2 separate regions of the Homo sapiens genome follow, and region 2 is linked to region 1. The links come from fine-mapping of genetic effects on gene expression. A gene starts in region 1. The other region holds a variant in brackets. All regions are shown on one strand. Distances are between the middles of the regions. Region 1 holds the start of SETD2 (SET domain containing 2, histone lysine methyltransferase). Region 2 overlaps SETD2 (SET domain containing 2, histone lysine methyltransferase).

Evidence for each region. PIP is the estimated chance that this variant, and not a neighbour inherited with it, causes the effect. A credible set is the group of variants that fine-mapping cannot tell apart.
Region 2: its variant is the best candidate, but not a certain one, in a credible set for the expression of SETD2 in whole blood (GTEx, PIP 0.85).

Annotation. Positions count from the first base shown.
Region 1 is chr3:47,161,191-47,166,714 of GRCh38, reverse strand. It overlaps SETD2 (SET domain containing 2, histone lysine methyltransferase), which reads left to right and starts at 2,602. Exons shown (of 21, transcript NM_014159.7): 1 at 2,602-2,861. The coding sequence starts at 2,791. KIF9-AS1 (KIF9 antisense RNA 1) reads right to left here and starts at 2,345. Exons shown (of 7, transcript NR_033373.1): 1 at 2,118-2,345. RefSeq lists silencers at 2,100-2,149, 2,200-2,949, 3,000-3,309.
Region 2 is chr3:47,080,982-47,085,981 of GRCh38, reverse strand. It overlaps SETD2 (SET domain containing 2, histone lysine methyltransferase), which reads left to right. Exons shown (of 21, transcript NM_014159.7): 12 at 1,600-2,262. Among named protein-coding and RNA genes, the nearest start is that of SETD2, 81 kb to the left of the region's middle. RefSeq lists enhancers at 1,705-1,844, 1,729-2,230. The variant A/T (reference allele first, on the strand shown) is at 2,711.

The sequences.
Region 1 (5,524 bases):
TCCAAGCATGCATTCTCTTTGACTTAAAAATATGAGTCCAAAGAACTCTGAGTGCAGTTATAGATGAAGGCACTGCCTGTAAAAACCCAGTTCATTTGTTTCTGTTTGGGGCTTAGAATTCTCACTGATTCCCATGGCTTGACAAGCTTATTGCACTGGGTTCTGACCAAACCAATGCTATCATGAGACCAGGCATTCCAGTGCCCAGCTGTACCTCCTGCAAGAGAATTGCTTACTTTCTTATTAAGGAAATAGGAAACCTGCACCTGACTGCTTTTTTCTCATTCACCTCAGCTTAGGTCCTTACCACCTCACATTGTTTCAACCACCTCCACCTAAAATTGTCCTTTCCTGCCTGTCCAAGGTCAAGTGACTCCCAATTGCCTATGTGGCATCTAAGGCACAGGGCCTCAATCTATTCTTTCAAAGCCCAAAAGATAACACTTACTGGGCACTTACTCAATGAAAGGCACTGTGCAAGCATGTTCACAACATTCTCTGCACAGTGGCTAATACCCCATTTACAGGTGAGGCACGGGAAGCATAAGAAGCAAGCATCCCAATGTCACAGGGCTAGAAAGTGCCTGGTACACAATGCCAGGTAGAGCTACCTCTTAAACTCTGCACTATCATGGCTGAAGAATGCTGACGTTTACTGAAAGTTTAAGCCTTTAACAAATAGCTCATTTAATCCTCACAATAATGAGAAGACCTGTCGGCAGCAATATTCTCATTTTATAATGAGAAAAACCACAGGGAAATTAGTAATAATCACGGTGTGTAAAAAAATGGCCTTGGGAGATTCGAACCTAGGGAGTCAGATGGACCCTGGACCTCCATGCTAACCCTAAAGGTACCAGGAAAAAAAAAAACAAAAGCCAAAATAATCCCTAAGTGAAAAACAATGATTATAAAACACTAATAGACACTGTAGCCTACATACATATAAAGGCTATTTTAAAAAGTTAACCACTGAAGGATGTTTATTCTTTCGTATCATATTTCAGTTTTTTTTTGTTGTTGTTGTTTTATTTTTTTGAGACGGAGTCTCGCTATATCGCCCAGGCTGGAGTGCAATGGTGCGATCTGGGCTCACTACAACCTCCGCCTCCTGGGTTCAAGCGATTCTCCTGCCTCAGCCTCCCGAGTAGCTGGGATTACAGGCGCACCACCACGCCCAGCTAATTTATTTTTTATTTTCATTCATTTATTTATTTTTTTGAGATGGAGTCTTGCTCTGTCGCCAGGCTGGAGTGCAGTGGCACAATCTGGGCTTACTGCAACCTCCGCCTCCTGGGTTCAAGCGATTCTCCTGCTTCAGCCTCCCGCGTACCTGGAATTACAGCCGTGCGCCACCACGCCCGGCTAAATTTTGTATTTTTAGTAGAGATGGGGTTTCGCCATGTTGGCCAGTGTGGTCTGGAACTCTTGACCTCAGTTACTCCGCCCGCCTCGGCCTCCTAAAGTGCTGGGATTACAGGCGTGAACCACCGCGCCCGGCCCACTTTCAGTTTTTAACCACTGTTTCTCAATTGGAAGACACATCCTTTCCTTTCCGTTACCAATTGCTGGTAAAATCCGATTCAAAATTCTAGTGGAAAAACAACAGCAACAACAACACAAAAAACGCTAACCCTATGAACCCCCAATGTCAAAATGATCTATCGCCAAAAACTCTTCAGCGTCTAGAAAGTTTAGCTATTGGATTTACGCGTTCCTATCTCTCCTTCCAAAAATAACAACTCGTAGCTCTTTCAAGTTATTCTACTTAGTCTCATCTTATCATTTCTGTAGGAAAGTGATTAATACCCTTTTTTTCATGACATTGCCTCTAAGGCCCCAAGAACCACACAGGAGAGGGGAGCTGCCGCCTTGGAGACTTCGGGTGGGGGCAGAGCGCCGCGCCGAGGTGGAGGTAGGAGCCCCGAGGGCACAGCGGGAAGGAAGGCGGAGGAGGCTGCCGGGAGCTCGGCCTCCGAGCAATCCCCCGCCTCGCTGGGCTTCCATGCTTGCTAAAGGGTCGAGATGAACGGGCAAGGGAGAGAGAGGGCGAGGAAAAATAAAAAAGAGAGGGGCGAGTGGGACGAGGGGCCCGGGAGCAGCCGCGGCCGCGTTACCTCAGAGCCCAGAGGCCTGGGGGAGGGGCCCTCGGCGCTGCCGCGGACTCCGGGGCTCCCGGCGGGCAGGTCCTGCAGGGCCGCGGAGCGAGAAGGCTGATGTCTCGGGTGTCTCGGGGAGTTCTCCCGACGTCGCCTGCTGTTTGTCAGTCGCCAGCTGTGACACGGTAGCGGGCCGGGTCACGCTGCCCCCGGCCGCCAGGCGGGTTGCGGGAGGGGTCGCGGTGCCGCCTCTCCAGGTCCGGTCTGGCCCACATCACTGGGGCCGGGGGTTTATTGTTCCGGAGAGCCACAGGCACGGTCGGCCTGGACCCGCCGGGCAGTGTTCCGCTCTGCCCGTCCCGGCCTGGGGTCAAGCCAACAGCTGCAAGGCACGCCGACTGGCGGCAGATCGGTGGCCCGTGTGTGTCTCTTTAAGGGGCCGGGCCTGCGAAGCTGAGGGGCGGGTGGGGTGTGCGTCGCTCCCGGTGTGAGGGTGAGAGGGAGAGAGCGGCTGGCGGGCGTCCGAGGGAGGGAGGGAGCGACGAGCGAGGTAGCGACGCGGGCCGCCCCTGCCGCCGCCGCCGCCGCCGCCGCCGCCGCCGCGGTCGGACCTGCGGCCTCCTCCCCTCCCCTCCCCCGCGTCGCCCTGCTGCGGGGAGGGGGCTCGCGTCGCCGTCTCCAGCCGCTCCCGATGAAGCAGCTGCAGCCGCAGCCGCCTCCGAAGATGGGGGATTTCTACGACCCGGAGCACCCGACCCCTGAGTAAGTATCAGCTCCGCGGCCCCCCGCTGCTGTCGGCCGCCTTATCCCCAGCCGAGGGCGGCGCGTCCTGACGGGTGGCGGCGCGGGCCGGCGCGAGGAGTAACAGGCCCACGGTGGCCTCGCGCGGTCGGTGTCGGGAGCAGGCCCGCGCCGCCACTTCGAGCCGCTTGGCCGGGGCCGCAGCAGGCCCGCGGTTGGGCCCGGCGTTGGCGCCGCTGCTCGTGTCGCGGCGGCGGTTGGGCCGGGCCGGTGGGGGAGGGGCGGCCACGGTCCCTACGGTTACCGCCGTGTCCGCACCGACCCGGCCATCCCGGGGCTCGGCGGTCCTCTCGGGCTCCTCGTGGCTCGTCCGGGCCCCGCTGCTAGCCAAAGGGCAGAGTCGGAGGAGCTGCCGGTGCCGGGCCCGGCAAGAGGGCGCCGGTGAGGGTAGGCCGCGAATCCCCGGGCTCGGGTGGAAGCTCGACCCGTCGCCCGACCTCCCCGCGACGGCGGCGCCTCGGACCGGAAGGGCCTAGCGCGGGTTGCCTGGCCCCCGGGCCGTGGAGGGGCCCGCGCTGCACTCCTGAGTTTGATTTTTTCCTCCTGGGAACTCGATCCTGGCCTTGCAGTGCTTCCGGATTCACATTGTGCACCTTTGGCACTTGGGTTTTGTAATGGCGAGGTTTGTGTGGTCCCGTTGTTGAGGTGACACCGGGTTTGTTTTTCCGCTTGAAAATGAAAGCCTCCTGAGGGACATACATTTTCTTGCAGGTTGTGAGATTTTCACACTTTCGGACACAATTTTCTTGGTAACAGGAATCTCTTACCCTAAACGGATGACTTTCTATTTCTTGTGAAGACTTGGTTAAAAACCAAGAATCGTTTGAGGATTCTCTAAAGAAGACAATGTTGTGGAAAACCGACACACAGTTTTGCCCAATAGTAATTTTTCAGTCTAGGACACCTTTACATTTCTCTTGAGGTCTGAATCTGCTGCTGTATCTGCTATCTCAGAAAGCCTGGAGTCACTTCTTTCCCTGAACCCTCACGAGACCATTGTTTTGAAAAGCCGTTCTTAAACACCGTTTGCTGGTGTTAGACCTAGGAATATACTATTGATTTAAAACTTATCGGTTGATAGGGGTTTCACATGAAACTGTCAAACTTTTATGACCAGGATGATTCCAAGAGCTTTGCTGTTTTGACACATTTTACCTTAGGTTTGCTCTGGCTCGTTTTTGAATCCCTTGCCACATCTTCTCACATTGGTCCAGAAATGTCTGGATCTTAATTGATAGTTTTGATTGCAACACAAACGGATTCTGTTGAGGTGTTGGTCATTTCTGCACAACAAGATAAATCATTATTTTGCTTTTCTAAAAACCCAACTCTTACTTGCAATAGTAAGTTAACATGGCTTTTTCCTTTCATGGGTTCTTGGCCATTGGTTAACATTACCTTAATTAGATTGGTCTTTTTGTTTTGCTACTGGCAGGGTCAGTTAGGTAAGATTGTTTTGATTTACTGCACCATCAGTCCAATTACAAAGCTCATGTTATAGGTTTTTAGTTTGAAAAACCTCAAAAAAAATTTTATATCACGATTCAATAAATGCTTATATAGCACTTGCTCTGTACAAAGTAACATGCTAACCCCTGAATAGGCTAAGTGCCTGCTTTCACTTCCTTTTACCAGGTTGTTTGGTGAAGTCCGGAAGCTTTAAGGATCACATCCTTACACTTCTTGGGGAAAAACAATTTTTCATAATATGTGGGAAAATGGACTCAGAAGTGCATCTTTGGTAGACCTGAGTGGGGAAGGAATCAAGAATGTTTTATGGTTTTACATGTTTTGGAGTTTTTATTTTTATTGCTTTAATGTAGTAGAAATCCACTGCTTTGGATTTCTAACAGTGATTATATATTTTTAAATTCTCGTGTATTTTTTCCTTTTTTTTTTTTTTAGAGGCAGGGTCCCACTCTGTCACCCAGGCTGGAGTGCAGTGGTGTCATCATGGCTCATTGCATCCTTGAACCTCTGGGCTTAAGCAGTCCTCCTGCCTCAGCCTCCTGGGTTGGGACTATAGGCATGTGTCACCACACCCAGCTAATTAAAAAAAAATAAATTACGTTACTGGTTTTGAATCCCTGGCCTCAAGTGAGCCTCCTGCCTTGGCCTCCCAAAGTGCTGGGATTGCAGGCATGAGCCATTGTGCCAGGCCTCTTCTTGTGTATTAACCTGTATGGAGTAAAGAATTGTAACATGTTTTTTGTTGTTGTTGTTTTGTTTTTCCTTTTTTTCATAATACTATAAAGACTGGAGGGGATCATGGTAGGTATCCTGAGCAATATCACCTGTTTGGCATATGAAGAAAATGAAGGCTAGAGAAGTGAAGTGACAGCAAACTCTTGAGATAGTAAGCTAGTTAGTGTTTATAATGCTAGAGAGAGGAGAGAGAAAGGCAGTATAGGGTTTAAAAAACCTGGATTTCAGAGTCAGACCTGAATCTGAACACTATTTTAACCTTGGACGATGACTTCATCTCTCTGAACTTGGGTTTTCTCATCTTTTATATAGGTATTATAATGGTTAACAACTTACTGGGGCTTTTTGGGAGGATTGAATGAGATAATGCATGAAGAGCACTTGGCGCAGAATGTGGCACGTGTAAGTGCTTCTAGTTG
Region 2 (5,000 bases), 80 kb after region 1:
TTTTAAAGTTGGTACTACATAGCAGGGAACTACAAGAGCAAGATATAATAACAACAACATAGTTAAGTGAAAGATCCAGTTTGTTGTTAAAACCAGAGTTTTAAAAAGATGGGAAGTCATATAAAATTTGAACTGTGGGGTCTAAAGAATTGGTAAAGATCTGAATTCTGCATAACAAGAGTATGAACATTTTGAGGAATCTTTTAAATAAGTGTTTTAAAAGATCTAAGTAAAGGTTCATTGGCAGCATTATTAGTGGAGTTACGATGTCTTTACCTTTCTATGAAATTAATAAAATTTTCTAACTTTCTAATTTGTAATATAATCCCAGAGTCTTTTATTTAATAAAACACTTTTAAAAACAAACAAAAAGGAATGGGCAGATAAGTACTTGTTCTTGCCTCTGTCCTTCTCCCAGGAGATTTGGCTTGAGGAAATTGAGGAAGCCTTGGGGTTTCTGTGGAACTACATTGAGGAATACTTCAGAAAAAATTCTTGGATTTCAAAATGGGGGAGGTTGTCTAAGAATGAGGAGGGGATCTCTCTTTGCTAGACAGCTGTTTATCAAAAGCTGAAGAGATGTCTGCATTTTTGTGTGTATGACAGACATCATTTAAATATGTTGTTACATAGCTGCTAAGTGTATATCACAGACACTTGGTAAACTTTTTAAGAAAAGATACCCAGGATTGGTCCAGTAGTGTATATGTTTAAAAAGCTACCCAGGTTTAGGAACTACTGGTAGAGAATATTAATCAGTCCTATTTGATGTTGTGATTCTTGCTGATCAGTCTTATTAAAAGTTTTTCTTTCTTAAGGAAAACAATATTATGATTTTTAAATATGCTTGTGTTTACAGAGATGTAGTTCTTAATAAAGCAGTAGCAAAACTGCACTACTCTTGCAGAAATAATCTGAGTCCCATCCAGAAATTGAAAAAGTCAACTGTAGGCCAGGCGCTGTGGCTCAATGCCTGTAATCCCAGCAGTTTGGGAGGCTGAGGCAGGTGGATCACCTAAGGTCAGGAGTTCAAGACCAGCCTGACCAACATGGAGAAACCCCATCTCTACTAAAAAAAAAAAAAAAAGCTGTGCATGGTGGTGCATCCCTGTAATCCCAGCTCCTCGGGAGGCTGAGGCAGGAGAATCGCTTAAACCAGGGAGCCAGAGATTGCAGTGACCAAGATCACATCATTGCACTCCAGCCTGGGCAACAAGAGCGAAACTCCATCTCAAAAAAAAAACAAAATCAACTGTAGCCAGGTGTGGTGGCTCATGCTGGTAATCCCAGCATTTTGGGAGGCCGAGGTGGGTGGATCACTTGAGGTCAGGAGTTTGAGACCAGCCTGGCCAACATGGTGAAACCCTGTCTCTACTAAAAATACAAAAGATTAGCCAGGCGTGGCAGCTAGCGCCTGTACTCCCAGCTACTTGGGAGGCTGAGACAGGAGAATTGCTTGAACCCAGGAGGCAGAGGTTGCAGTGAGCCAAGATCATGCCATTGCATTCCAGCCTGGGTGACAGAGTGAGACTCTGTCTCAAAAAAAAAAAAAAAAGTCAACTGTACAAAGTGATGTAATTTTTTTTTATGTTTAATCAGATTATAAAGACTTTGGAACACTTGCCCATTCCTACTAAAAATATGTTGGAGGAAAGCAAAGTACTTCCAATTATTCAACGCTGGTCTCAGACTAAGACTGCTGTCCCTCCGTTGAGTGAAGGAGATGGGTATTCTAGTGAGAATACATCGCGTGCTCATACACCACTCAACACACCTGATCCTTCCACCAAGCTGAGCACAGAAGCTGACACAGACACTCCCAAGAAACTAATGTTTCGCAGACTGAAAATTATAAGTGAAAATAGCATGGACAGTGCAATCTCTGATGCAACCAGTGAGCTAGAAGGCAAGGATGGCAAAGAGGATCTTGATCAATTAGAAAATGTCCCTGTAGAGGAAGAGGAAGAATTGCAGTCACAACAGCTACTCCCACAACAGCTGCCTGAATGCAAAGTTGATAGTGAAACCAACATAGAAGCTAGTAAGCTACCTACATCTGAACCAGAAGCTGACGCTGAAATAGAGCCCAAAGAGAGCAACGGCACAAAACTAGAAGAACCTATTAATGAAGAAACACCATCCCAAGATGAAGAGGAGGGTGTGTCTGATGTGGAGAGTGAAAGGAGCCAAGAACAGCCAGATAAAACAGTGGATATAAGTGATTTGGCCACCAAACTCCTGGACAGTTGGAAAGACCTAAAGGTAAGGAAGCATCTTTTGTTCATTTCAACTTGAATTACTCAGGTTTAGAGTTCTACAAACCTAAGCAAAATTAACTACTTTTTTTAGCCATGCATATTTCTGAAAAATGGAATACTGTCTCTCTTACTGTTTTATTTATAAGTGTCTCAAACATCCTCTAAACCGTGGCAAGAGTCATATTAGCCAAACTAATATACAAATGTCTTCTTTTCTGTCACTTAGAAAAGTACATCACAATAGTGAGTTCAGTCATTTAAGTGCTCTTCACATTAAAAACAAAAATCCTTTGAGGAGCAAACTTAGGATTCTATTTGTAATGAGAAAAAATTAGTGTTTAAATTTATTGGAAATCAGTTGTATTAATGGAAAATTAAAAATAATTGGAAAACTAAGATAATTTAGCAGCTTACTAAAAATGATTGAATGTAAATTTTTATTTTAGAAAAAC[A/T]ACTTTATGGAACTAGTTCGTATTCACTTCTATTATTGTTTCTGAAATGGGCCTGCTTTTAAATGCCTATTTCTTTGGACAAAAGAGGAAAAATAGATCTGGAACTCTTATGCCTATTACATACATAATCTCTTGTTGAAGAATGTAGCAAGATGTGCAGGGTTTGCTTTGCAGAAAACCCAGACTGAGTCTTGGATAAACACAAGAATGAATAACAGGATAAACCTAGGAGAGGTGTGGTACATTTCATTTGTAAGTGATCTGGACTTGGGATCCACGTCTTGAGGACCCTGTGGGAACAGGTTACTTAACTAGCTTCTATTTTTCTGTTCCTCCTTTCTTCTGCCGGAGATGAAGCAACCAAATAAACCAGCAATCCTGACTCTTTGCAGCAAGATGAACACCTGAATCCTCCCTGCCCCTAATTATGATGACAAAGCTCACTCCATTAGATCCTGTGATTTGACCCAATGAAACTGGCCTTAAACACTGAGCAAAATGAGTAGTTGGTGGTTGTGTACTATGCTTCCTCATTTGCTGTGTTGAGACCCTTCTTTAAGTATGTTGTGGTTTCAGCTTTTGTTTACCCATTTGAGCTCTTACTCATGTTACTTTCATCACTTACAATTCAGTATAAAGTCAGCCTTATTATGTCTTAGGAAATCAGGCCTTTTTCTAAATATGAAAGGAAGAGTTCGTAGTAAATTTACTTATGAAGTCAGTATGTGAACTGCAGGAATCAGAATTGCAGTTAATTGAAAGAAGTGCTGGGATAGTCACTTGATGGATTTTTATTTAAGGCCTGCTTTGTGACAGCACAGGAGTCCCTAAAAGGAGTCCCTCTTGTGTTTGGAGGCTGCTAGTGGAGCCTGTAAAGAAGCTCAGTTAAGAAGGTGGAGATGAAGACAAGTACACAAATGGACACAGAAAAGGCCTTTATAGCTGTACTTTTATGGAAGGAAGAATAAGTAGGGTTGTAGACCAGTAGTTTACTTTTGCCGGAGAAGTCTCTGGTTGATGTTATTTTTTAAAACTGCTAAGAAGTAATCATTGTAAAGCTATCTTAAAATCTGGAAAAAGTAAATATTCTTGTTTCTTCGTATGATAGTGGGTTTCTGTAATTGTGATGGTATGAATTACTCTCTAGGATATACTTAACCCAATTAGATGTAACCATGGTAATTTAAACTCACACTCTGGACACACATTTGAGTCCTACAAAATTATTTCTTCCCCTTCTTCTTATCTTCCCCACTCCTATCTGAAACATCAAAGCAATTTTATATGTAGCTTGATGATCCTCTTGATTTGAGGTTTAAAACTTTATTTGTACTTAAAATATATCCTTCTTATCCTTCATACTTTGGATTTTTCCTGATTCTTAGTGTCAAGGGAGCCGTTAAGTAAAATTCTCCTCTCTTCTTCAAACTTTAGTTTGCTCTGGAATCATTACCCATCTAGAATTGTATTACTGAGAAATGTTTTTACTTGACTGTGAACTGTGATGTTTTGTTATACATTGGTGCTGGGGTTCTTAATTCATCCATCATTCTAATTAACATTTACTATGGCTCTGTTTTCAAAACTCTGATTATGGTGGTTCTTAAAAAAACCAGACAAACATAGATAGCATTTAACCAGAAGTCTGAAATCAGGAATCCATAATTTGAACATGTTTTAGAGAAACACATTGACATGATGTGATTACTGTATATCCATACGATCCCGGCATTGAAAGAGTTAACTACTTCTGTCTGACTTCCACCTATGTGTTCGAGTAGACATTGGCTGAAAAGAAAATGTCTTATTCAACCAACCTTTATTAGGCACCTATTGTCAAACACTGTGTTAGTTGCTGATCTTTAATTCCAAGATCGTACTAAAAAGCATTGGTCTAAGATTGTGGTTATGTGGTTATGGCCATTTCAAGTCTCCCCAGCCAACCGGGGGCCACCATAACATTGGTGGACATGTGTTCCGCTTGGCTTTTCTACACACTGGATGGAGTGAAGAACAGAAAGGGATTGCTTCAGATTCCTTAATCTTGGTTTTGCTGTGATGGCAGACTATAGGAATCATCAGTAAATGAAAGAGGGTGGGAGGGAAGGGAATGAAGCTTCATGAATTACTCTTTGTCCTCCCAGATCTGATGATGATCCCCCTTGTAACTTGAACCATTTCCATCTAGCTTCTCAGGGCAGCAAGGAGCTTGTTAACATCACCAGCTGACCATGTGTCTCCTTTTCTCAACTCCATTTCCAACTTCGTGCTGAAGAAAAACGAGAACCTA